Linked DNA regions of Homo sapiens: all the other regions are linked to region 2. The links come from fine-mapping of genetic effects on gene expression. Tissue or cell type: whole blood. Region 2 holds a variant in brackets; each other region holds the start of a gene. All regions are shown on one strand. Distances are from middle to middle.

Region 1 (8,102 bases), 170 kb before region 2:
TGCACTCACACAGCTGGCACAGTGCTCATCTGTACACCTGCACGACCCTGTCAGCACCGTTCATGTGAGTCTCCTCCATGAGAATAGCACTTTGAGGCTAGAGACAGGCCTTGCATTTATCAGGCCTTCTTCCACACCACTTTAATGTGGGGCCTAGGCCCGGGAGAAGTGCTGCTTGTGGGTGGCTCACTGAGGTTCAGACTGAGGGTCCTACCCCCATCCTCTTATGCAGCATTAAAAACCCAGGCTTAATGATGGCCTTTGATAGTCAGACTGGAGGTCTGCTCTGCATAGCACTGAGGAACCATTGAGACCGATACCAGGGACTGACTACCTTCCCTCACCAGCACATCTCCCAGTACAGCCCAAGAACTGGCCCCAGGGGAGAGGCTCACAGGAGTGGGGAGGAGGGTGCTCACCGAGAGGATGACGTAGCAGTCCCCCTCATAGAAGTTGCCGTGGGCGCTCACAGGCACCAGCGCCAGCTCCATTTTCTGGAAGGACAAGGGGTGGGTATAGGCTACATCCCCTCCCACCTCCCTTCCCCATGAGCCTCCCTCTCCTCTCTGTCATTCGGTGCAGGTGGTGGGGAGAAGGAGGGGAGATGTTCTCAATGACCTTACAGGATGTGAGGCTGCCAGCCACAGGGTTAACGTGGCCATCCCTCTGGCTTCTGTGAGCTCTGCTTGCATCACCCCGGATCTGAACCTTGGTCCCTATCCTGCTTTCCCTTGCCCTATTCTCCACTCTACTTCCCACCCGATCTCATCTCGCACTATTGTGGGAAACCTGTGAACCACCTCCAGCCCTTTGCTGGATATAAACGACCAAGTACAAACCCTTCTCTGAGCCGTTGTGCCAGCACCTCCAACGCTCTTCCCAACGCTGACCACTGGGTGCTGGCCCAGGCCCATGTAAGAAAGAACACTTGGATTCTGTGGGGCCGTGGGAGGTGGAGGATAACATTTGGAGAGTGCCAGCGGTCAGCAGGGCTCTGTGCCAAGTGTCTTATATTTGGAGTCTGGGTCAGGGCCCTGATTTATCACTGCATGTATGGCTTGGCCCTGGAGGACTGTTCACACAGCCTTGATGTAGATTTTCATCACACTCCCCAAGTGAGGGAAACTTGCGGCCATACTTGTGTGTGTTCTATGTAAAATGTGATAAATGTTAAATATACTGCAAATCTGGTAACCGTGTTTTAGTACTTGTTTTTTGTTTTTGTTTTTGTTTTTTTTGAGAGGGAGTCTCCCTGTGTCTCCCAGGCTGGAGTGCAGTGGCGCGATCTCGGCTCACTGCAAGCTCCGCCTCCCGGGTTCACGCCATTCTCCTGCCTCAGCCTCCTGAGTAGCTGGGACTATAGGCGCCTGCCACCATGCCCAGCTAATTTTTTGTATTTTTAGTAGAGGTGGGGTTTCACTGTGTTAGCCAGGATGGTCTCAATCTCCTGACTTCGTGATCCACCCGCCTCAGCCTCCCAGAGTGCTGGGATTACAGGCGTGAGCCACCGCACCCCGCCAGTACCTGTTAGTTTTTAAGGAAACTGGAAGCCTTCAAACAGTGGAAGTGACCTGGGACTCACAATCTCTGCGAGGCTTGCTGGAGAGCTGACTCCCCCTCCTGGTTGAGGATAGTGAAGTGAGGCATCATCGCTGGGTTTTAGGCAGCAGCAACTGACTGGGCTCAGGGCAGGGGTTGGGGGGAATCCTCGTATCTGGCAGGTGGAGCTACCCAGGCCAGGGTGGTTCCCAGCTATGGATTGCTGGAGCTCACAGCCGCACAGAGGGTCCCAAGCCCAAGAGGAGACGGGCTGAACAGCTCCTCATCTCTGCAGTGCCCCCTCACCTCTCCCCATATTTTGTAGGAGCCAGGGTGCCCCGTGGAAGACATGTTCCATTTCTCTGATGGAAGCTGCCAGGAGTCTGCTGAGTAGGTCCCACCTGTCTTTCCAGGGTGTTTCCTGCAAGTGCAGACTCACTGAGCAGGTGGCTGGCTAAAGGACAAGCCTGTTTTTGTCTGGAGCCCTGTTCTTCGGGGCTGAACATTTCCTCCACCTGCCAACCACCTGCTTTGAGCACCCAGGAGAGGTGAAGGATGGGAAATAGGTACTTTGATGCTGCCTCTCATTCTCCTCAAACCATAGGCTAAGGGGTGCTGGCGGGCTGTTGCCTAGCAGCCCCAGGCAGCCAGACTGCTTCCAGATGCCAGTGGTCACAAGTAAGGTGCCTCCAGCCCAGCTCACCTCTATTCTCCAGACAATGATCCCAGGGTCGTTGTCCACAGCCCTGAAGGCACTGGTCAGAGGCATGATGCTTGTCTTTCCAGGACTGAAACATCACAGAACAAGAGGGGAGATGATATCTCTTGCCATAGTGGGCATCAATCCAGTTTTTCTGCCGAGCTGCTTCCCAGTCTGTTGTCAGCCATCCTGCCACACCCTCATGGTGCATCCCTGCACCATTTCACAATGATGGGGGCAAGGACTTGTCCAAGTGCACATGGTGAGCCTGGCTGGCCTGGGGATTACCACCCATGAGTTCTGCTTCCCACCTGCCATTGCCCTTAAGAGCTCTGGTAATCGTCATGGTTATTTACCAAAGGGGTGATAAATATGTTAAGCCCTGTATTGATTCACTTTGCATATGTTATCTCTAATTTTCAGAAGGTGAGTTTCTTCATCTTACATTGTGTGAATCTGAGGTTTGCAAAGGCTGAATAACTTGTACAAGATCACACTCTAGAATGAAATCCTTATCTGATCCCCAAACCTGTGCTTCTAGCCACTTTGATGTACTACAACCCTTCCTAAACCAATCTAAGTTCAGTGGCATTTGGAAAGAAAAGCTAGTCAGAAAAAATATTTCCAAACTCAGTTGCCTTCTCTCACTCTCATTCCAATTCTTCCCAAGTTCCCTGCTTGCAAGGCCTTCTCCACAGTCAACTTTGACCTTCTCTTTGGCTTTTGTCCTTTTTTTTTTTTTTTTTTTTTTTTTAGAGTAAACTATTCTTAAACTCAAACAACCCTTCCTTCTTTTGTCACTACTATATTCCCTGTGCTTTCCAGATGCAAGGAAAGTAAAATGGCAGGGCTGGGCCTGGGACAAAGGGTTCTGGGTGCTAGCAGGGTGTGGCCTGGTCTGGCCTGCGGACAGATGGCTTCCTTTTTCCCTCCCACACAGACCCAAGCTTCTGTGTGGAAGCGTGAACCTCAGACACTTAGACGTCTCCAGTTCCTTCAGGATTGAGCAAGTCAGGGTGGGGAGAGGGGGGAAGTGGTAAAGATCTAAGTCTGTGTAGGTCGTGTACCATCTGTATTCAAGGAGCATCTTGGGTAATTAAGCACCTACCCATGTCCAAGGCCACGTAGAGGCTTTATAGAATTAAAATACCTGCTCTCAAGGAGCTTGAAATCTGATAACATGCATAATTAATGTAAAGCTAGATTAATTTCTCCCAAGAGGCAAAGGAAAAAGGATGGGGTTGATGGATTTATGTAAGATTTAAAAATTCACCCAGAAAGGACTGTATGCATTTTTGCTGTTTGGGGACATACTGTTTGTTAAGAGGAACATGTCTGACCATTGTTTTCTTGAACCTTGATGGACAAAGCCAAGTTTGGAGAGCATGCGCCATCTAGTATGGACTTTGGCAAAAAACCATAAAGCTCAAAGCAGACTCGCTTTGTCTACTGCTGTAGCAGGACTAAAGCAAGGCAATGGTGCGGAGCAGCCAGTGTTTGAGAATTTAATTTGATAACTTGTGCTGCCCCACCCTGTGCTGCTCAGAATTGCCAGGAAATATGGTGTTTGGGTTTTCTTCAGACCCTACGTAGCAGTCATTAAAGGCAAAAGCCATGAGCCAACTAGGGGAAGGGGACAAGGGCCACTGAATTCATTCCTTGGAGACAGAGAACTGTCACCCTGGTAAAAGCCAAACCAGCCGGCAGCAATTAGGACTGTGAGCCTCAGAGGCTGAAACCTGTCCCGTTTCCCAGCAGGAATTTAGGAATCAAGGAGCTCCCTGGGCCAGGCACCCCGAATGCGAGAGGATAAGCTCCAGGAAGGGACTTCCTGTCACACTGGAACACACAGAAAACACAGTTCTGACATCAAATCTCCCAAAGCTGGGTCTCTCCTTCTCCCTAAATCCTAATTCAGTATCCTTTGAGAGGACTGCAGAAACCCCTTGGGTGTGGGGCACAGTTTTGAAATGTCAGGTTAAAAGCCAGTGGCCTGTAATTCTCAGAGATGCCCTTTTGGACGGACCCTGAGCAGAGGAAGCTGTTTTTTGTTGTTGTTGTTTTTGAGACAGGGTCTTGCTCTGTCACCCAGGCTGGAGTGCAGTGGTACAATCACGGCTCACTGCAACCGCCACCTCCTGGGCTCAAGTGATCCTTCTGCCTCAGCCTCCTGAGAAGCTGAGACCACAGGTGTGCACCACCATGCTTGGCTTTTTTTTTTTTTTTTTTTTTTTTTTTTTTTGTAGAGACAGGGTCTCACTATGTTGCCCAGGATGGTCACAAGTTACAAACTCCTGGGCTCAAACAATCCTCATGCCCTGGCTTCCCAAAGTGTTGGGATTACAGGTGTAAGCCACCTCTCTGGGCCAGGAAGCTGGTTTTAACTCCTCCTGCCTTGCTCCATACCATCTTTCTCTAGGGATAGGTGAAAGGGGTCTGTCTTTCCCAGCTTTTGAAAATGTGCCCTATATGTTCAGCTGCCTCTAAGGGGTTCTTCTGAACAAGAAGTTTGCAAAACTGGCCAGCCAGACTCCTGGTTCATTTTAAAAGCCTCATCTCAGAAGACAAAGCCAAGGGACTCTCAAGCTCCTCTTCCTTTCATTTCTTCCTCATTCAGGAGGATTAACTGGCATGCCCCCGTAAATCAGAGACCTTACCTTGCCTTCTCGCTCACCAGCCTTCCCAGTTTCCCGGCGCGTAAGCAGCAGCAGTATTGAAGAACCACTCCAAAGCAGGAGGCTCCAGGTCCTGCTGCCTTAGCTTAGTAATGGCCGCAGAGATACTGGGTTATATTTGCTTGTGTTTGCATCTTAACCGCATTTTCCTAGTCCTGGCCAATCAGAGCCAACCTAGCACTGAGCTTGGCTTATTCAAACCAGAGGGAAAGCTTTATCTGTGCCTATTCAAAACAGCAAAACAGAAGAGCAGACTTTTAAAGGCTTCTTTGAACTCCAGCTCCACGCCCTGATCTAATTGATTTTTTAAAAAGTGCACACAGCCCATCAATAATGCAGGAAAGAGGTTGGAAGGATATGAAATTTGCCATATTGTAGATATGGATGCATTATGGTGATGACAGGAGGAAGAGGCTGGAGCTGCCCCATGAGTGCCTGTGATGTCTAGGTTGGCAAGAGCCTCCCTAAGAAGCTTCTGGCATTTCTCAAAGGGAGGGGAAGTCTGGGAGAGGAGCCAGAATTTTATTAGGCCACAGTTTTGCTCGTTGGGGTCTCTACTAGTCATACAGTAAACCAATCAATATTTGAGTGCCTGCTGTTTGCCAGGAACCATGCTGGGCTCTCAGCTTCAGGGTTTCCAGTTTGGAAGAATCAGTGAGGGGCAGAGAAGAATCAAGACTCCATTCCCAGGGCTGGGTGTGGTGGTGGCTCACGCCTGTAATCCCAGCACTTTGGGAGGCTGAGGTGGGTGGATCACAATGTGAGGAGTTTGAAAACAGCCTGGCCAAGATGGTGAAACCCCATCTCTACTAAAAATACAAAAATGAGCCGGGCGTGCTGGCAGGCGCCTGTAATCCCAGCTACTCAGGAGACTGAGGCAGGAGAATCGCTTGAACCTGGGAGGTGGAGGTTGCAGTGAGCTGAGATCATGCCACTGCCTCTAGCCTGGGCAACAGAGCAAGACTCCATTTCAAAAAAAAAAAAAAAAATAATAATCCATTCCCTTAGGGCTTCTGGTTCATGCCCAGAAGTCAATAGGACATCAAGCATATACACGTGCTAAGCACCTGACTGCAATGGGGTTGATCACAGCAGAACTTGTGTAACCTTGAGCGGAAGCCCTGTGTGGCATCTGCAGCTGGCCTCCCGGTGGGTGCAACACCCCACTCAGCCCGGGGGTGCAGCTGCTTCATGATGGAAGGGGTTGCGAGAAGAAAGGCGGTGCTTGCCATGGGCCCAGTGAACACTTAAGGGCCAATGAAGGTTGGTGGCAGCTCACATTCCTGGAAAGGTTTTTTAAACCCACTTTTATTAATTAATTGTAAGTAATACAAATATTCCAAAAATATAAACAGACACTTAATGGCGTCCTGCATTTCAAGTTTTTGAATACAACAAATTTATCAAACCATGAATCTGTAAGCAAGGTAGTCAGAATCCCATAGCCCAGTCACAGTGGGAAGCAGATCCCCTACCCTCCAAATGGCATCTTGAAGGGGGAAAGCGGCACGAAATGGAACATGATAAGCAAAAAAGCTCACGAGGCCCAAAGAGGAGGGTCCGCTCCATGGGCAGGCCCTACAACGTTAAAAGAATGGGGCAGCTGGCCCGACCTCTGGCCTCCTCTTCCCTGGCTGAATGTAAATATTTACCAGCATTTAGAAAAAAGGAGAAAAAAGACAGAACTAAACCCGTTTAGGAAAAAGGGACCGAGGGACAGCAGTGGTTAAGTAATCCACTGAGGACCTGAAGGGGAAAATGGACTTACCTTTCTCATATACTTGGCCTGGCTAGGACACTGGGTGCCAGACAGCCTTCTGAGGGGATTTTCTTTCTAAATGAGGCCTCAGGAACAGGTAGGGGCAGCAGAATAGAATAGCATCCATTTCCCAGAGAAAGACTGCCTTTACATTTCCCATGCTTTTAGCACAAAGCAGCGTCTGGGCCACTGTTACCAGAGGTGAGTTTATACATTTACAAAATGCTTAAAATCTTTGGGAAGCAAGAGGAAGCTAAACAGAAGGTCCCATGTTAACTGAAGGCAAATTCACTCAACCTCTCTAGTAAGGGACCCATGGGCCTACAGAGTGTTCCCTCTACAATGTGCAGAGTGGAAACCCTTACCTGACCCTTTTCCAAACTGGTCCTGTGTCCAAAGCTCCCCCTATGAGAGGGACACGAACATCAGGCTTTTGATTTAGAAGCCCAATCAGAGAGACACACTGTGTCCCTGAAGAGGCACCTTAAAAGAACTGAACCTGGCAGGTAGGCAGATTCCTGGCATGGCTTGAATTGGTGCTGACCAGGCATGGTGGCCTATTGCCTCCCAAAGACCAGTCTCAAGTGGGAGGGGCTGATGGTGGGAAGCCCTAGAAGAGAGTCTGGGATGAAGCGGCCTCCTCCCTGTCTTGCCCTCCAAAATTGAGTCTGGCCTGATTCCTTTGAGGAGCAAATTTTACAATCATCCCTCACCCTAACACACGGTGAAACTGGAAACCCGACAGCAAATAATGACTAGGCTGGCTCTGGTCCACAAGAACAGACCCTGGCTAGGTTTGGCCGAGTAGCTTCTCTGGGGCAAGTGGGAATGGCATTGTTGGGGGGGAGTTGCAGGTGGGCAGGCAGGGTTCTGATGGGAGTGAGGCCTAAAAAGCAGGGGCTTCATGCAGATGCAGCAGGGACACTCCCACCAAGCCATCCTGGGCTTTGGTCATGGGTCCCACGCCAAGCACTTGGACAAGTCTGTTAGGAAAGGGGGTGGCACATGCTCTTCCGCCATCTGGAAAAACATGGAGATCCAAGGGAGGGCGGAAAGGGTCCTTGCAACTCAGTCAGCTTAGAGCCTCTTATTGCTTATTTAGTCAGAAAAGCCTGGCTGGGCCTAGACGGCAAAAGATTTGGCCAAGGGCTAACCCTTAGGGTGGGGCTTGGAAGAGAGGCCCCTCCTGCAATATTAGGATAGCAGCCTAGGTCAGGCCTTGGGTCCGAAGCCACAGCTGGCTCTAAGAGTCTGAGCTCCTGCTTTCCTTCAAGAGACAGTATATTTCTGGCTAGCACATGGGGTCCTTCTCCCTTTAGGTACACCGGGACCCCATAGGCACCGGGGAGTGATGCTGGCGGAAATGGCCACATGAGTTCTGGGGACTCTGTTCCACTTTATGATTCCAAAGAGAAAGACAAGGCCTTAT
Region 2 (8,102 bases):
AAGAGAACTACAAACTGCTTCTCAAGGAAATAAGAGTGGACACAAACAAATGGAAAAACATTCCATGCTCATGGACAGGAAGAATCAACATCATGAAAATGGCCATACTGTCCAAAGTAATTTATAGATTCAATGCCATCTCCATCAAGCTACCATTGACTTTCTTCACAGAATTGGAGAAAACTACTTTAAATTTCCTATGGAATCAAAAAAGGGCCTGTATAGCCAAGACAATCCTAAGCAAAAAGAACAAAGCTGGAGCCATTGTGCTACCTGACTTCAAACTATACTACGAGGCTCCTACAAGGTTACAGTAACCAACACAGCATGGTACTTGTACCAAAACAGATATATAGACCAATGGAACAGAAGAGAGGCCTCAGAAATAACACCACACATCTACAACCATCTGATCTTTGACAAACCTGGCAAAAACAAGCAATGGGGAAAGATTCCCTGTTTAATAAATGGTGTTGGGAAAACTGGCTAGCCATAGGCAGAAAACTTAAACTGGACCCCTTCCTTACACCTTATACAAAAATTAACTCAAGATGGATTAAAGACTTAATTGAAAGACCTAAAACCATAAAAACCCTAGAAGAAAACCTAGGCAATACCATTCAGGACATAGGCATGGGCAAAGACTTCATGACTAAAACACCAAAAGCAATTACAACAAAAGCCAAAATTGACAAATGGGATCTAATTAAACTAAAGAGCTTCTGCACAGCAAAAGAAACTATCATCAGAGTGAACAGGCAACCTACAGAATGGGAGAAAAATTTTTGCAATCTATCCATCTGACAAAGGGCTAATATCCAGAATCTACAAGGAACTTAAACAAATTTACAAGAAAAAATCAACCCCATCAAAAAGTGGGAGAAAGACATGAACAGACACTTCTCAAAAGAAGACATTTATGTGGCCAATAAACATATGAAAAAAAGCTCATCATCCCTGGTCATTAGAGAAATGCAAATCAAAACCACAATCAGATACTATCTCATGCCAGTTAGAATGGTGATCATTAAAAAGTCAGGAAACAACAGATGCTGGAGAGGATGTGGAGAAATAGGAACGTTTTTACGCTGTTGGTTGGAGTGTAAACTAGTTCAACCATTGTCGAAGACAGTGTGGCTATTCCTCAAGGATCTAGAACCAGAAATACCATTTGACCTAGCAATCCCATTACTGGGTATACACCCAATGGATTATAAGTCATTCTACTATAAAGACACATGCACATGTATGTTTATTGCAGTATTATTCAGAATAGCAAAGACTTGGAACCAACCCAAATGCACATCAATGATAGACTAGATAAAGAAAATGTGGCACATATGCACCATGGAATACTATGCATCCATAAAAAAGGATGAATTCATGTCCTTTGCAGGGACGTGGATGAAGCTGGAAACCATCATTCTCAGCAGACTAACACTGGAACAGAAAACCAAACACCAAATGTTCTCACTCATAGGTGGGAGTTGAACAATGAGAACACAACAGGTAGAGGAACATCACACACCAGGGCCTGTTGGGGAGTAGGGGGCTAGGGGAGGGATAGCATTAGGAGAAATACCTAATGTATATGACGGGTTGATGGGTGCAGCAAACCACCATGGCACGTGTATACCTATGTAACAAACCTGCATGTTCTGCACATGTATCTCAGTCCTTAAAGTATTAAAAAAAAAAATCCACAAAAATTAGCTGGGTGTGGTGGCACATGCCTGTAGTCCCAGCTACTCAGGAGGCTGAGGCAGGAGAATCGCTTGAACCCAGGAGATGGAGGTTGCAGTGAGCAGAGATCACATCACTGCACTTCAGACTGGGTGACAAAGTGAGACTGTGTGAAAAAAAAAAAGGCATTGGCTTTGAGGTGAAATATGAATGCTTAAGGCAGAATACCTCAATACCAGTTTATATTATTAATTCTGGAAAGATTTTAAAGACAATGTTATATGCACTGTTTTCTACAACGTGTCCCTATAAACCATTTTTGAGGGCATTGGAAGATTATGGTGGCTGTTTCCATATTAAAATGTTAATGTCTGAGTCAAGTTGGTGGTTTTTGAACCTGAAAGATCAAATAGTTCTATTTAATTGTATTAACCAAATTGATTTTAAACCAGCGGAATTATTTGCAGTGCTTAAAAAGTCATTATTTTCCATTCAAGTGAGATAAATGGGTCACCTTGGGATTTGCAGCTGGAGTTTTCCTTTATGATAATATATTGGGAACCAAGTCATTTGTCCTAATGACACTCTCAGCAAAGGTTCACCAAACCTGTCTTGATTAATTTTTCAAAAGCACTTGAAGAGATTTACCAATTACACTTTCAGGGGTTGATTTGATCAGCTCCACATGGTTGCACAATCTGCATCTTGCTACTTAAACTCCAACAGACCAAAATGGTTAAAAGAGGTCTGATGGAAATAAACTATGAACTCAATTCTAATGTGGTCTAAACTTGTATGCTTTAAATTACTGCATATTTGGGATGCTGCATATAAAATGATCTAATGCAAATTCTCAAATTCTGAAAAAGTAGTGAGGGAGCAAATATTAATTCCATTTTGCCAGTGAGAGATACTGTGACAGAAAACGATAAAGGAACTGAAGATGGCACACTGAACACCACCACAGGACGATTAATCGTTTTCTTTCATCTCCGCTCCCATCCTTCGTTTCTGTGGCAGTTATCATTACATTCTGGCAGTAATGTGGTGGTAAGTAATCTGCATTTTCAATTCTCACAGACATTATACAGTTCCATTTTGAAACAAATTGCTTTTTCTTTTTTGGTCTCTTCTAAAATCTTTCTTCTCAAAGTATGGTCCTTGGCTTAGCAGCAATGGCATCAACTAGTTGCTAATTAGAAATGCCCAGATTCTGCTAGATCAATCTGTTTCATTCATGTGTATATTAAAATCAAGAAGCACTCTCTGGCCAGGCGCAGTAGCTCACACCTGTAATACTAGCGACTCTGGAGCCTGAGGCAGAAGGATCTCTTGAGGCCAGGAGTTTGAGACCAGCCTGGACAACATAGTGAGACCGTGTTTCTAAAATAAATAAATAAATAAATAAATAAATAAAATTAGCCAGGCATGGTGGTGCACCTAGTCCCAACTACTTGGGAAGTTGATGTGGGAGGATCGCTTGAGGCCAAGAGTTCGGGGCTGCAGTGAACTGTGATTGTGCCACTGTACTCCAGCCTGGGTGACAGAGTGAGAATCTGTCTCAAAAACAAACACACAAAATCCCAAAAAACTTCCACAAGTTCAGCTGTGCAAGCTTGAGAATCACTGCTTTAGCATAATGTTGCATCTGGGTGGCCTCACTTTCAAACTTACCATTCGTAAAACGGAATTTTTATATGCTTTTTATATAGTATGTTTGTTGCTCCATAAAGGAAGTTGAGGAATTCAGGATTGTTCTTACTTAATCCATCCATTAATTAAATAACT[C/T]TTCTTTTAAGAACAAATGCTTTTAATCTCATGACTAACAAACCTTGTTATGTCAATTTGTGCATTAAGCATTGTTATGTGAAAACCTACTCAGCGTTTCACAAAATGTGAGGAAAGAAATAGAAAATAAAGAAATGTGTTTGGTTTTAGTCATTATTACGGTAGGATAAACTCTGATTATCATAACAGAAAAGAATTTCAATTATGAAATTCAGAGCACACATGAGAATAGATAAGGTCACTAGGTAAGATACAGGAAATCCAGTTAAATTTGAATTTCAGATCAACTGTAAATATTTTTTTTTTACCTAAGAATTTAGCATTTTTTAGTATAAGTATTTAGTAGAAATAGGTTCCATGAAAGTACCTGGGACATAGTTTTATTTGCTAAATCTGGCAACCCTAAGAAATAAGCCAGGCAAAATGAGGGGTAAATTATTATATTTATAATCATTAAAAATTGGAACCTATATGATATGCTATCAGGCCAGCTACATAAGTTACCTTTTATAGAATATTTTACAATTAAGGAGCAATAATGTATGCTGTGTTCCGTGATTGCAGCTCAATATGAAATCTCTAAGTAATTTTGATCAAGAAATTTCTTTGCGTTGATGTCGAAACACAAGCAATAATAATTTAAAATAATCCCATGCATCCTGATTACCATTCTACTAATTTTATTAATTTATGTGTAAAATGTTGAACCAAAACAATACACTGCAATGTTCTTAAAAGAAGAGGAGAGAGAGAGGAAAAAAAAAGGAGAAAAAGAAAAGCCATACCGAAATTCTGAGCTGTTGGAAAACTCAGCCAGCAGCAGAGGGCACTAATGTATCACTGATGAATTGTGCATCACAAGAGGCTTAAACATTTTTTTTTTTTTGCCTCGCACTAATAAACTTTTATTTCACTCAAATTAGAGCAATAATCTTCCATACATAAGTATTTTCCCTGCCCAATAATTCAAATAAAAAAATCCAAAATGATTAATAAAGAAAAATATAAGAATTAACAGACCCTTTAAATTTGTTTTACATATTTTTAAGGTTTAAAAAGGGTTTAAAGTTTGTAATTCCTAGTAGGAAAACATTATCTGAATGAATACTCTAATGGCAAACCACCGTAAAATGCTTCAGCTGCATTCGGGGGAGAGGGGTAGGGATTATCTTCAAAGCACTCCAGCTCTCTTGATGAGAAGGTCAGAGGTACACCGGTTTGTATTACTGCATCATCCATAAGGTGATCTAGGTTGCTTTTCCTTCAGCAATGCCTTTATTTATCGGAAGGGCATTAGGCTTGACCTCCAAATTTGGCTGACAATTTACTGATAAGATTCATAACCTTTGGATTGCTCTGGTATTTTGACATATTTGCTGGGTTCTGAGCCACATCCTGGAAGGCCACCATGACTTCTGGATCCTGCAAGGCTGCAGGAACCTCTGGATCACTAAGAATTTCATTGGGTCCAGGCCTTCTGGCCATCCTAGGTATGCCCCCTCCATTCCAGGTATTCTTCTGGGAAAATTACCAGGCATTTCCCCAGGAAAGCCACCTGGAAAAAAGCCAGACTGAGCTCCTGACTATTGTCTGGCTTCTTCCTCCCTCTGGGCTCTCTCATGCTCTTCCGAGTCTTCTTAACTCTTTCTATTCTTTCTTTGGTCTCTCGCTCTTCACGTTTTCGCTCATACTTTCTCCGATGTTCTGTAATTTCCTGTGTCCTAGGTGGAATCAGGATTTTTTTCAATGACTCTGTCACAGTCTCGGATGGCAGAATTTGGCTTCTGTAATTTGATGAAGACACTGGCCCTCTTGGCATACAAAATAGCCAAGTGAGGATTCAGCTTGATGGAATCTGTGATAAGTCAATGGCTTTCTGCAGTTCACCATCATTTAGGGCTTCAACAGCAGCCACTTTCTTATCATTTGCCTGATCCATCATCTCCTCTGTTATCTCTGCATTTTCATCTCCCATTTCTTGAGGGGCATCAGTGTCTGGTTCAATCACACCTTCATTATTAATTTCTAGATAACTTTCCTTACTGGATGGTTCATCTGCCTTTAAGTCTTCCTCCACATTCTTACTACCAGATTTTTCTTCCTTGGTATTTTCTTCTGATTTAGCTTTCTGACTAGCAGGTGGCACTTTACTCCCCATGCTCTCCACCCACTCCCTCAGGAAGCACATTTCCTTGGTGTGCAGAACGCTGAGATCCTGCTTACACATTTTCACAAAGGCCCGAAGCGTGTTCACTTCGGGAGGCGGTGGGCAAAGCTAAGGGGCTGTGGCTGGTTCCAGGCCCAGGTGCTGGCTTGGCATGACCTCGTAGAAGCAGGCGGCTGCCGGGAGACAGAACACACTAGAACCTTCCTGGCCACTGGCTCCTCTTCACCCAACGGTCTCGTGACCCCAGGTCCTCTGCCTGCTCATTCCTATTCCCTCTGCGCTGCTCCTGCCCTCTCCCTAGAACCTTCTAGAAGCGTGGCTGTTCGTGCTGTTCCCTGCCTTTCTGCGCACACATGCTCATATTCTTAACTAGGGACCAGCTCCCTGGATGGGGCAACCCCTGACATGGGTGCCTTCAAGGAGGCGGGGGATAGCAGCCCTTTCAGGGAGCAATGTCCAAGAGCATATTCTGTGGCTGCGTGCACTTGAGGCTTAAACATTTTTGTAATGCTTTGTTCAACTTAGATTTTATTTAAATATTTATTTTAATCAACTTTGCCATGCAGTGTTGTTAAAAGATTAGAAACTAAAAGCAGTTCTAGTGTACTGTTCAGCACTTGCATGACCCTAAATAACATATATATATATATATATTTGCTTAAGATCCTTCGCTAAAAAAGTACTTAACCATTTTGGCAACTGGATGTACTATGTTTCTGGTTTATGCTTGAATGCCTGGGTCTTTACAAGTGTGTTGACTGTGTGTGAGGGACCATAGGTCTAATTAAGGAAGGCAGTGGTGGATGGAGGCTTGTGAAGTTAAGGAACTAAATCTAGTTGGGTGGGAGATGGCCATGGCTGGACTGACTTAACTCCTGAACCAGACAATGAAGTGTCATATGATACATTTCTGTCCCCAGGCATACAAACCTATACAGAGGTGTGTATAAGTGCAGTAAAATTCAGGACTATTTCATTTTCCCCACAGTAATGCCTTTATGGACAGAGAAGGAGAGTTCATTTTGGCCCTCTTTGTGCTAGCCTTGGCATTGCATATATTTGATTTCATTCCAGTTTCATGACAACCCTGTGAGGTAGGTGTTATTATCATCTGTTTACAGATGAAAAAATCCCCAAGGCTGAAAGAAAGGATATATTTCAATGAACACTATCCTTGTGTATAGTGGGCACTCAACATTCATCTAATGTAGCATTTCTTAAACTTTGGTCTGTAAGACACTGGTACCATTCAAGGTTTCATAAGTTTTCCTTATCAAACAATTATGGGAAATGTTGCAAATTTTAACTGTCTCTTAGAGTTTCACAATGCACAAAAATGTTTTAAAATTTCTTAAGAAATTATGTGGTAATGCAACTTATTTAACTTTATGCTTAGGTTTCTCAATCTTATTTAGCTAAATAATTTTTCTTTTCCTCCCATTTTTAGTAGAACTACCATCCATGTGGCAAGGCATACACCTTTTGTGAAACATGTTTTGAAAAACATGGGTCTAATTATGTATGGAGTATATTTTCTGGTAGGAATTAGAGGAGTTAGTTCATTATTATCATCATTCTTAGAAAATATGTATTTGGGTGGCGATTCCTCAAGGATCTAGAAACAGAAATACCATTTTTCCCAGCAATTCCATTACTGGGTATATACCCAAAGGATTATAAATCATTCTACCATAAAGACACATGCACATGTATGTTTATTGTGGCACTATTCACAATAGCAAAGACTTGGAACCAACCCGAATGCCCATCAATTATAGACTGGATAAAGAAAATGTGGCACATATACATGATGGAATACTATGCAGCCATAAAAAAGAATGAGCCCATGTCCTTTGCAGGGACATGAATGAAACTGGAAACCATCATTCTCAGCAAACTAACACAAGAATGGAAAACTAAACACTGTATGTTCTCACTCATAAGTGTGATTTGAACACTGAGAACACATGGACACAAGTAGGGGAACATCACACACCGGGGCCTGTTTGGGCGTGGGGGCAAGGGGAGGGAGAGCATTAGGACAAATACCTAATGCATGCAGGGCTTAAAACCTAGATGATGGGTTGATGGGTGCAGCAAACCACCATGGCACATGTATACCCATGTAGCAAGCCTGCACAGTCTGCACATATATCCCAGAACTTAAAGTATAATAATAAAAAAAAGAAAATAGGTATTTGGTACCTTCAATTTGTAGGGCATTGGGATAGAATCCAGAGATATGACACAAACCCTGTTAGAGAGAGAGAGGAGTTTACAGTTTATATGAAGAGGCAAAAATGTCTTTGGTTTGAGTGGGAATGTAACTTTAACTCCAGTGCTCTTCTTTCTTTAATTTTTAGCGTAGGATGGTGGTCATGGATAACAGGGTTTCCAATGATTTCTTAATGTGACATTCTGTTTTGTTCCCCTAGTAAACAATTACCACTTTCTTCCATTAATT
Region 3 (8,102 bases), 140 kb before region 2:
CTTTGAAGTAACAATGTAAACTTTAACCACCATCCCTGACCCTGGTCCCCACTCTGTCCAATCTAAGAACCAAACTTACCATGATGGGAATAAAAGACAATACCCCAAATTACCCAAAAGCTAGCAGAAAAAAAAAATTGTAGGAGGAATTGGAAGGGAAGCTATGTATTGATATGTACACACATACACACAATCCCATATATATTTACATATTGTCTTTCTTTTCCATGCTTATTTACAAACACTTTAATTCTTCACAGGTTGGGAGCATCAATTCACGTTGGCTAGAAATGTGACTTCTTTAGTATTTACCATTTTAACAAAATCCATGATAAGGGATTTGGAAGGTCCCATGGAAAGGATGAAATGACACCTCTCTGCTACCCAGTTTCTTTAAGACCTCTACGGTTGAGAAGAGAGGACAAAGGAACACCCCCACCTCTGCCATCCTCCGAGGGATTTTTCACAGCAATTCCAGTGCTGCTCAGTGGAAAGCTCTGCAAGTCAACTGCAAACCCCCAGCCCCAGATGTTAGGCATTTACAAACTTTGTTGCTGATTTATCAGCGCTCCTCTGCAATTTTGGGGACAGGAGCAAACACAAGCTTAAGTCACCACGCAGGCTGCAACCCTTACCCAAAGATGGGGGAAAAACTCCAAAGGAGATGCAGGAGGGAGCCTCAGCAGTCACTGTGAGAGCACAAAGAGGCCAAGACCCAGGGTAGGCAAAGGAAGGTGAGAGGCACCAGCAGGGCAGGAGGAGGAGCCAGCTATAAACATGCAGGCTTCCCGCCCCCTGCATAGCAAGCTATGGAAGGAAGCTCCAGCAAGATTCATGTCTAAGCTTTTCAAGTTAAAGGCTTGCCTACATCTACAGTGAACGGTGTCTGAACAACTTTTTGAGGGAATAAGGCAGAATTTCTCCCTTATGCGGATAACAAAAGAGCTAGCCATCCTGAAAACTTGCCACATCGTAATTTTCAGAGATGGTCAGTCTCTCAGAAGAATCCTTGCAATTAGCTATCAGAACCTGTCCAGTTCGGCATGTGAGAAGGTAATCCAGGGCATCATCGAGAGGAAGGGGCATCAGGATTCATGGACAACAAAAAAATCTCTGATTCCTCCAAAAGGCGTGTGGGTCACTGAGCTCCGGAAGAGGCTGCCTCCACCAGGTCTCATTTCACGTTGGGAGGTTACAGCGTGGGTCTTGTTTCCTTGGCTTTCCCCCATCTAATCCCAAAGCCAAGGTCACAACCTCTTAGCAATGGGGTGACAATCTCATATAGAGCTGCAATCAACAGCCATTCTTGCCAAGCTGATATTAACATTTCTTTTTTCTTTTTGATGTTACACACAATCCTGTCCTTGCTGTACCAGAAAGCCATTTCACCCATCTGTCTGGGAAGATGATCCAATTTTGGTGCTTTTATCATCAATGCTTTCAGCAACTTTGTTCTACTTCCCCTACTGTAATTACTTTTGAATCATCAACGCACCCAGACAGCCTTAAACCTCAGAGAACAGAATGCTAAAAAAAGAAAAAAAAAACCCGCAATGGCAAGTAACTTCACTAAATAGCCACCCAAGCTAGGAGCAATTTGTTTCTTTCCAGAAATTTACTTATTAATAATAAGTACCTCACACTCCTTCTTCCCCTTTTTCCAAAGGCAGGCAAGGCATGGAGATGGGATGTTGTGGAGAGGACGGAGTGGGGAGAAGAAGGAACTCCAAAAGGAGCCAATTAAAACATCTGCTTCCCCAGTCCCCCAGCTTTTGTTTTTTGTTTTGTTTTGAAGACGTAGGTTTTGTTTGTAAATGATGTGGGACTCAGAAAGTTGGTTTAGTGGTTGCTGGGTGCCTAAGCAGCCCAGGAAGAAAGTCTGTCTTCTCTGGAATGCAATCAAATTACATGGGGAGGGGCCGGGCGCGGTGGCTCACGCCTGTAATCCCAGCACTTTGGGAGGCCGAAGGGGGCTGATCACCTCAGGAGTCGAGACCAGCCTGGGCAACTGGCGAAACCCCTGTCTCTACTAAAAAATACAAAAAAATTAGCCAAGCGTGATGGCGCGCGCCTGTAATCCCAGCTACTTGGGAGGCTGAGGCAGGAGAATTGCTTGAATTTAGGAGGCGGAGGTTGCAGTGAGCTGAGATTGCGCCACTGCACTCTAGCCTGGGCAACAGAGTAAGACTCCATCTCAATTAAAATAAAAAATTACATGGGGAGGGAGAGACCCAGTGGCTGCTGGCTTAAACCACACACACAAAAAAGGAGAAACATTAACTCCAAGAAAATCCAACACCAGCAACTTAACACTGTCAAGCCAGTTGCTTTGCTTTCTGCTGTTATCTATTCTGTAGCCTGCCATTCACCCTGGTGGATGAAACTTCCAGCTCTGATTTCTAAGATGCCCCGGCGCAGTCCAGCTTTCCCTTACTCCTCGCGTGGCCCCACGATGCCCAAGGCACACTCCCTGCAAGAGAGTCCCTGCAAGAGAGGAAGACCTAGTGGGGAAGCACAGGGCTCCTCCCCCTACTCATCACCACTGCCCCCTCTTGAATCCCCCCACATCTAGGTTTCTTCCCCTCTGGCTAGCTCTTAGGGTCTTTTCCTGGGATAAAAAGGGAGTGGGAAGAGTCAGGAGTGAGCTATAAACACACGCAGGCTCCCTTCCTTTTTCAGCCATCAGCACAGTTGAGCAGCCAGCAGAGGCGGTGAAGTTGCTGCCTGGGTCACAGCCTGGTTAGTGATGCAGCCAGGAGAGCAGAAATCATGGCAACACCGAGGTCAGGGAGGCCGGAGCCTTCTCGGGGGTTGGGATCTGAGTAGGCAAGGCCATCCCTTCTCAGGGCAGGCTTATTTAAAGTCCGGCCAGTGATGCAAGAGGAACACACTGCCTCCCTCCCCCCACCCTTCCCCCCTCCCAGCTCCTCTCGTTCCACTGAGGGAATTTGGGAGAGGCTGACACCACCAACTCAGCGGATTTGCCCCTAGGGAAGTTGGGGGAGCTCCTTGGAACGTGAACCCCAGGAATTAGTGACCTGCTGACTAATGTTGCCAAACGGGGAGACGTGGGGCGCACGAGGCCCCGAAGCTGGCCGCCCACCAGGCTCTAGGCCTCAGTGTGTTCAACTGCAGCACCGGCCCTTCGCGCTCGGTGGAGAAGGGGAGGGAGCGCTCCGGCTTCGGCCCCAGGAGCCAGCTCCCGCCCCAGCCTCCGGGGCCAGGTGGCCCCGGTCGGGGGGCTCTCTAGAGAAACGCCACACTCGTCCTTACACCCCGCGGAAAATCTGCCGCTATTTTGGACACATTCCTCAAGGCCAAAAGAAGAACGTGGCGGAGGGGGAAAGAGTTTCGAGTCTCCCACTGTGACCAAACTAAGAGGTTCCACCCTCGGGCCCCAGCTTTCTCCCGCCCCGGGAGAGGCCTCGGCCTCCGCCTCACCCCCGCGAGGGCCTGCGGGCCCCCTCGCGCCTCCACCTGACGCTCTGGAAGGCGGGGGCCGCCAGCCGCTGCCCACAGAGAACTCGCACTTTTTCGCTGCGCGATTCAGAACCACGCCGGGTCTGATGCCATCCGGCGAATTATGTAACCAGGGACACCGCTCCCGGGCTAAACAAACGCGGCTCTGTGTGTGCAGCGCCGGCCCCGGGGGAGCGCACCGGGCAGGGAGGGGCTCTGGCCGGGCCTCAGGGTCGGGCTTGTTTGCTCAGCGAAACTGGTCAGAGGCAGCCGGGAGGGAGCCCGACGCCGCCAAGGTCCCGGGGCCTGCGCTGAGCCGGGAACCCGCCACGTCTGGTGCGCCAGGGCCCGGGCCCCTCCCCCACCGCGACCGCCCCCGCCTCCAAGAGGTGAACTTGGTCCCAAGTCCCGCCGGACGCCGTCACCGCCAGCTAGCTGCCCGAACGACCTCGGGCTTGGGGGGGCCTGCAAGTGCTGGACTCCAGTCTCGGTTCCGTTCCACCTGGGGCTCCCTCTGTCACCTTCCTAACCCCTCCCCGCGATCCCGGGGCAGCCGCGCGCGGCGGTGAAGGAAAGTGACGACCCCACCCCCAACTCCGGAGGCGGTGGACGCGGAGTGGCCCAGTGCTTCGAGAGCTACCCCTCCGTCTCTCAGCCCCGAGGGGGAGGGGTTGCGGGACAGGGTGACAGCTGCGCCGAAGACGCCCTTTCCGCTCGGGCGCCGGGATCCCCGTGCAACCCCCACGGAGGTCTGAGTGCCAGCCGGGATGCGGGGGCGGATGGACCGGAGGGGTCCAGTCGGGATCGCTGGCTCTAAGCCCTGGAGGTCAAGGGCCGAGACCTGGGTTCGGGGCTGTGCTAGCCCCCTCCGCGCCCGGGGGCGACGCAAAGTTTTGGGAAGTTGCTGCCCCTACCTTGCTTGGTGAGCACCAGGGCGTCTTCCCTCCGCGCCTGGGTGATGATGGAGCCGTGTTCCATCTAACAATCCCGCGGGCCCGGGCTGGCTGGGCGGGAGGACGGGCGGGCGCGCGGGCTGGGCTGGGCTGGGGGGCCTGGGCGGGGGCCCGCTCCGGCTCCCGAGACTCCGACTTCCACAGCTGTTCACATCCCCCCTCTCGTTTCCTCCCCGGACCGGGAAGGGAGGCGGCCTGTACAAAGGGCGGGCGGCCCGGGCAGCGGCTCCCCCGGGTGCCCCCGGCCCCGATCCCCCAGCGGCAGCTCCGGGCTCCTCAGTTTGGGTCCAACATGGAGAATCCGGAGCGAAAACAAGAGGAGGAAATGGGACACGGGGCGGTTTCCAGGCTCCCCCCTCCCCTCCGTACTCCAGATAAACAACCCGCGGCTGCAGCGCCCACCCCCGCGCGCCTCCCGGCTCTCGACTCGGCCTCTTCACGGCCAGCTGGAGCTTCCCGCTGGGGGCTGCGTCCTAGGCCCTGGGACCCTCCATCTGTGAGCGGCCGGGGCTGCGGACAGTCGGGAGCTTTGCTATTTTGTTACGGAAAAAGCGAATCCTCAAGGGGGGTGGGGTGGCGGGCGGGCAGGCTGGCGGGGGAGACTTGAAACCGTTCCGGTGCTCCGATTGGCTCTCTTGGAGAAAAGGGGCGTGGCCCCTCCTTACTATGCGGTGAGAGGACCTAACAACATTCCAGGCGCCACGGCCACGCCCCCGGGCCACTCCCCCCGCGCCAGACTGCGGCCTCCCAGTCTCCTCGGCCACACCCCCTTCCCAACTATTTAAAAGGCCGCTCCGAAGCTCACGTTCTGGTGCTCTGTGCTGGGGTGTTCTTTTCTCGGAGGGCGCACTCGGGGAAGGTGGAAAGGTTTCCCCCTTCAGGGGTGACCAAGACAAGCCGCTAAGCCTAACCTGACTCCAGCAGGGGATGGGGCGGATCGGAAGTTACCTTACCCCCCTGCTTAGCCCTAGAATCAAGGACGTACCAAGTCACATAAAAGTACAACCGTCGAGGCCAGGCGCGGTGGCTCACGCCTGTAATCCCAGCACTTTGGAAGGCCGAGGTGGGTGGATCACGAGGTCAGGAGTTCAAGACCAGCCTGGCCAAGATGGTGAAACCCCGTCTCTACTAAAAATACAAAAAAATTAGCCGGGCGTGGTGGCGGGCGCCTGTAATCCCAGCTACTCGGGAGGCTGAGGCAAAGACTTGCTTGAACCCGGGAGGCGGAGATTGCAGGTAGCCGAGATCGCGCCACTGCACTCCAGCCTGGGCGACAGAGCGAGACTCTGTCTCAAAAAAAAAAAAAAAAAAGTACAACCTTCGAATCCCGAAAGGGGTGTGTGCGTGTGGGCGGACCTAGGACTCCAGAGTATAAGAGCTGGAACTGACCTCGGGACTGTGTCCCCCAAAACACTGAAAATGAGACCTGAGGTGCTGGGCTTTCCTCACACCCACCGACTTACTCCCATTTAGGCGGCCCCGACTCCGCCCCTCCTCCCTACCTCCCTCATCCTACCCCTCTCTTTTTGCCCCCACAGTCCCAGCTTCCTTTAGATGGATGGAGGTCTCTCGGAGGAGCTTCAGCTTTGTGGACTCAGGCTGCCTTCCCCACTTGCTCTTTAGGCCTCGGGGCACGCTCCGCTGGCTACAGCTCCTGGAGTCTCTGCTCAAGGTTGTGGGTGCTTTTGTTCCCCAGCGGTGGTAGCTCCAGAAAGGCTGGTTTCAGCTCAATATCAGGTCTTTTCCAGTGATCTACATCTGTCCACAGGTGACATGGGCTGCCTTGGGACAATGGTAGCTGTTCAAGTCAAGGCCGGCAAGAGTGGTGTAGAGTGAGATTGCACTGGGTGACTTCTGAGCTAAATCCAACCCCAATATTCTGTGATTCAGTGGCACTCACCCTGCCAAGGAAGGGGCTTCCTTCCTGCTGCAGTTCCCATTGCCCAACATGCATCAGGTCTTACTGATGATTAGAGGACAACTAGGTCACAGCTAAGCTTGCCAGGTACTATCAGACACCTGCTTCCTATGGTCCCTTCCTCATGAGGACAGGTGAGGTCATGATCTGCATATGCCTGTGTGCCATACAGTGATCATGTGTGCCTGTTTCTGCTGTTCCTACGCACGTATACAAAACCTTTTTATATAACATCATTTTAATGGAAATGCTGTTTTTCCAAAATGAAAGTGGCTGTTACAGATCTGAATGATGCTTATGTAACTTTAAACACTGAATTTGGGTAGATCTTAATTCATTAACAGAAAGGGAAACGGAGGAGTTCTGACATACCCACCTCCCATCATTAAAACAATAGGATCTTTAAGGTAAATCTTCAATAGTCAGGTTGCTATGGGGGCCTTTTTAGACCCTTCCCCTGCCCTCTTCTAAGGTAGATTAGTTGCAGTGGGAGGAATGCAGGCAGGAGCTGAGGACTGAGGATTTAGAGGGGCCTGCTACCCATAGCACTGTAGGGCAGGACACTTCACTTCGTTATGCTTCCATTTCCTCATCCATAGAGACAATACCTCCCCTTTTGTAATTTACAAAGTACTTTCACATATATTATCTATTTCATTTGATCTCTCACTTCTTTGAGGTTGATAGAGCAGATATTATGCCCATTTTTATAGATGCCTGTTTTGTAAATGAGGAATTGGTCTGGGAAGGTTAATTGACTCACCTGAGACCTCACAGCTTGTTAAGAAGAGGAGACAGGATGTCTTTGGACTTTAAGACTAGAACCCTTGACACTTTAACATAGTTCCCTTCTTATCTATAGGATGGAGGAGACACTAGAACCTATCGCTCTCTTTTCCTGCTGTGAACTCCAATTGCATCACCTCTCCTGGAAGCCCTCCCAGATGCCCGCCCTCATGTCAGGGTTTTATAGCCTCATACATACTCTCTCAGACCACTTGGCACCCTATCTTGCAACTGTGTGCTTATTGGCTTCCCAACCAGAAGGTGGATTGAGACTAGGGGATGTCTTATTCTTTACTGGATTTCTTGTGCCTAGCAGAGTGCCTAACACAGAACAGGTGACTTGTACATGTTGAGATGAAGTCTCACTCTGTTGCCCCAGCTGGAGTGAAGTGGCGTGATCTTGGCTCACTGCAACCTCCGCCTCCCCGGTTCAAGCAATTCTCCTGCCTCAGCCTCTTGAGTAGCTGGGATTACAGGCACCTGCCACCATGCCCAGCTAATTTTTCTATTTTTAGTAGAGATGGGGTTTCACCATGTTGGCCAGGCTGGTCTCAAACTCCTGACCTCAGGTGATCCACCTGCCTCTTGGCCTCCCAAAGTGCTAGGATTACCAGTGTGAGCCACCATGCCTGGCCTTGACTTTATGTCTGAACCAGTGTTCTTTTGTCCAGGGATTTGTTCAGTGACCTACAGCAAGAAACACATTTTATGTTGTGAGATAAATGATACAAAAGTTTCATGGACAATACTTACCCTGGCTATGTGTGCACACTCATATTTTCTATTGCACGTATTGTGTTCTATTTGATGGTTTTAAGGTGCCAGCCATGACCTTTTAAATTGAATTCACAAACCACCACCGGATTGTGACCCAGTGTTAAAACAATGCTACTTTCACTCCTGGATGCAGTAGATGCCTTCATGTGTGTCTCAGGGCTCTGGCTGTCCCTGAAAGATGCAGAGGAGATGGTCCTCAAGCATTTCTT

Evidence for each region. PIP is the estimated chance that this variant, and not a neighbour inherited with it, causes the effect.
Region 1: it holds the start of AVIL, and the variant in region 2 is fine-mapped to the expression of AVIL in whole blood (TOPMed, PIP above 0.99).
Region 3: CTDSP2 starts here. The variant in region 2 is fine-mapped to the expression of CTDSP2 in whole blood (TOPMed, PIP above 0.99).

The regions. Positions count from the first base shown.
Region 1 is chr12:57,813,733-57,821,834 of GRCh38, forward strand. It overlaps AVIL (advillin), which reads right to left and starts at 5,002. Exons shown (of 20, transcript NM_006576.4): 1 at 4,897-5,002; 2 at 2,243-2,327; 3 at 420-494. The coding sequence starts at 2,308. CTDSP2 (CTD small phosphatase 2) reads right to left here. Exons shown (of 8, transcript NM_005730.4): 8 at 6,195-8,102.
Region 2 is chr12:57,979,028-57,987,129 of GRCh38, forward strand. It overlaps the pseudogene ST13P8. Among named protein-coding and RNA genes, the nearest start is that of ATP23, 42 kb to the left of the region's middle. The variant C/T (reference allele first, on the strand shown) is at 3,472.
Region 3 is chr12:57,841,999-57,850,100 of GRCh38, forward strand. CTDSP2 (CTD small phosphatase 2) reads right to left here and starts at 4,731. Exons shown (of 8, transcript NM_005730.4): 1 at 4,374-4,731. The coding sequence starts at 4,437. It overlaps CTDSP2-AS1 (CTDSP2 antisense RNA 1), which reads left to right. Exons shown (of 2, transcript NR_188077.1): 2 at 261-1,763. RefSeq lists silencers at 3,173-3,222, 3,553-3,852, 4,443-4,872, 4,883-4,962, 5,033-5,212.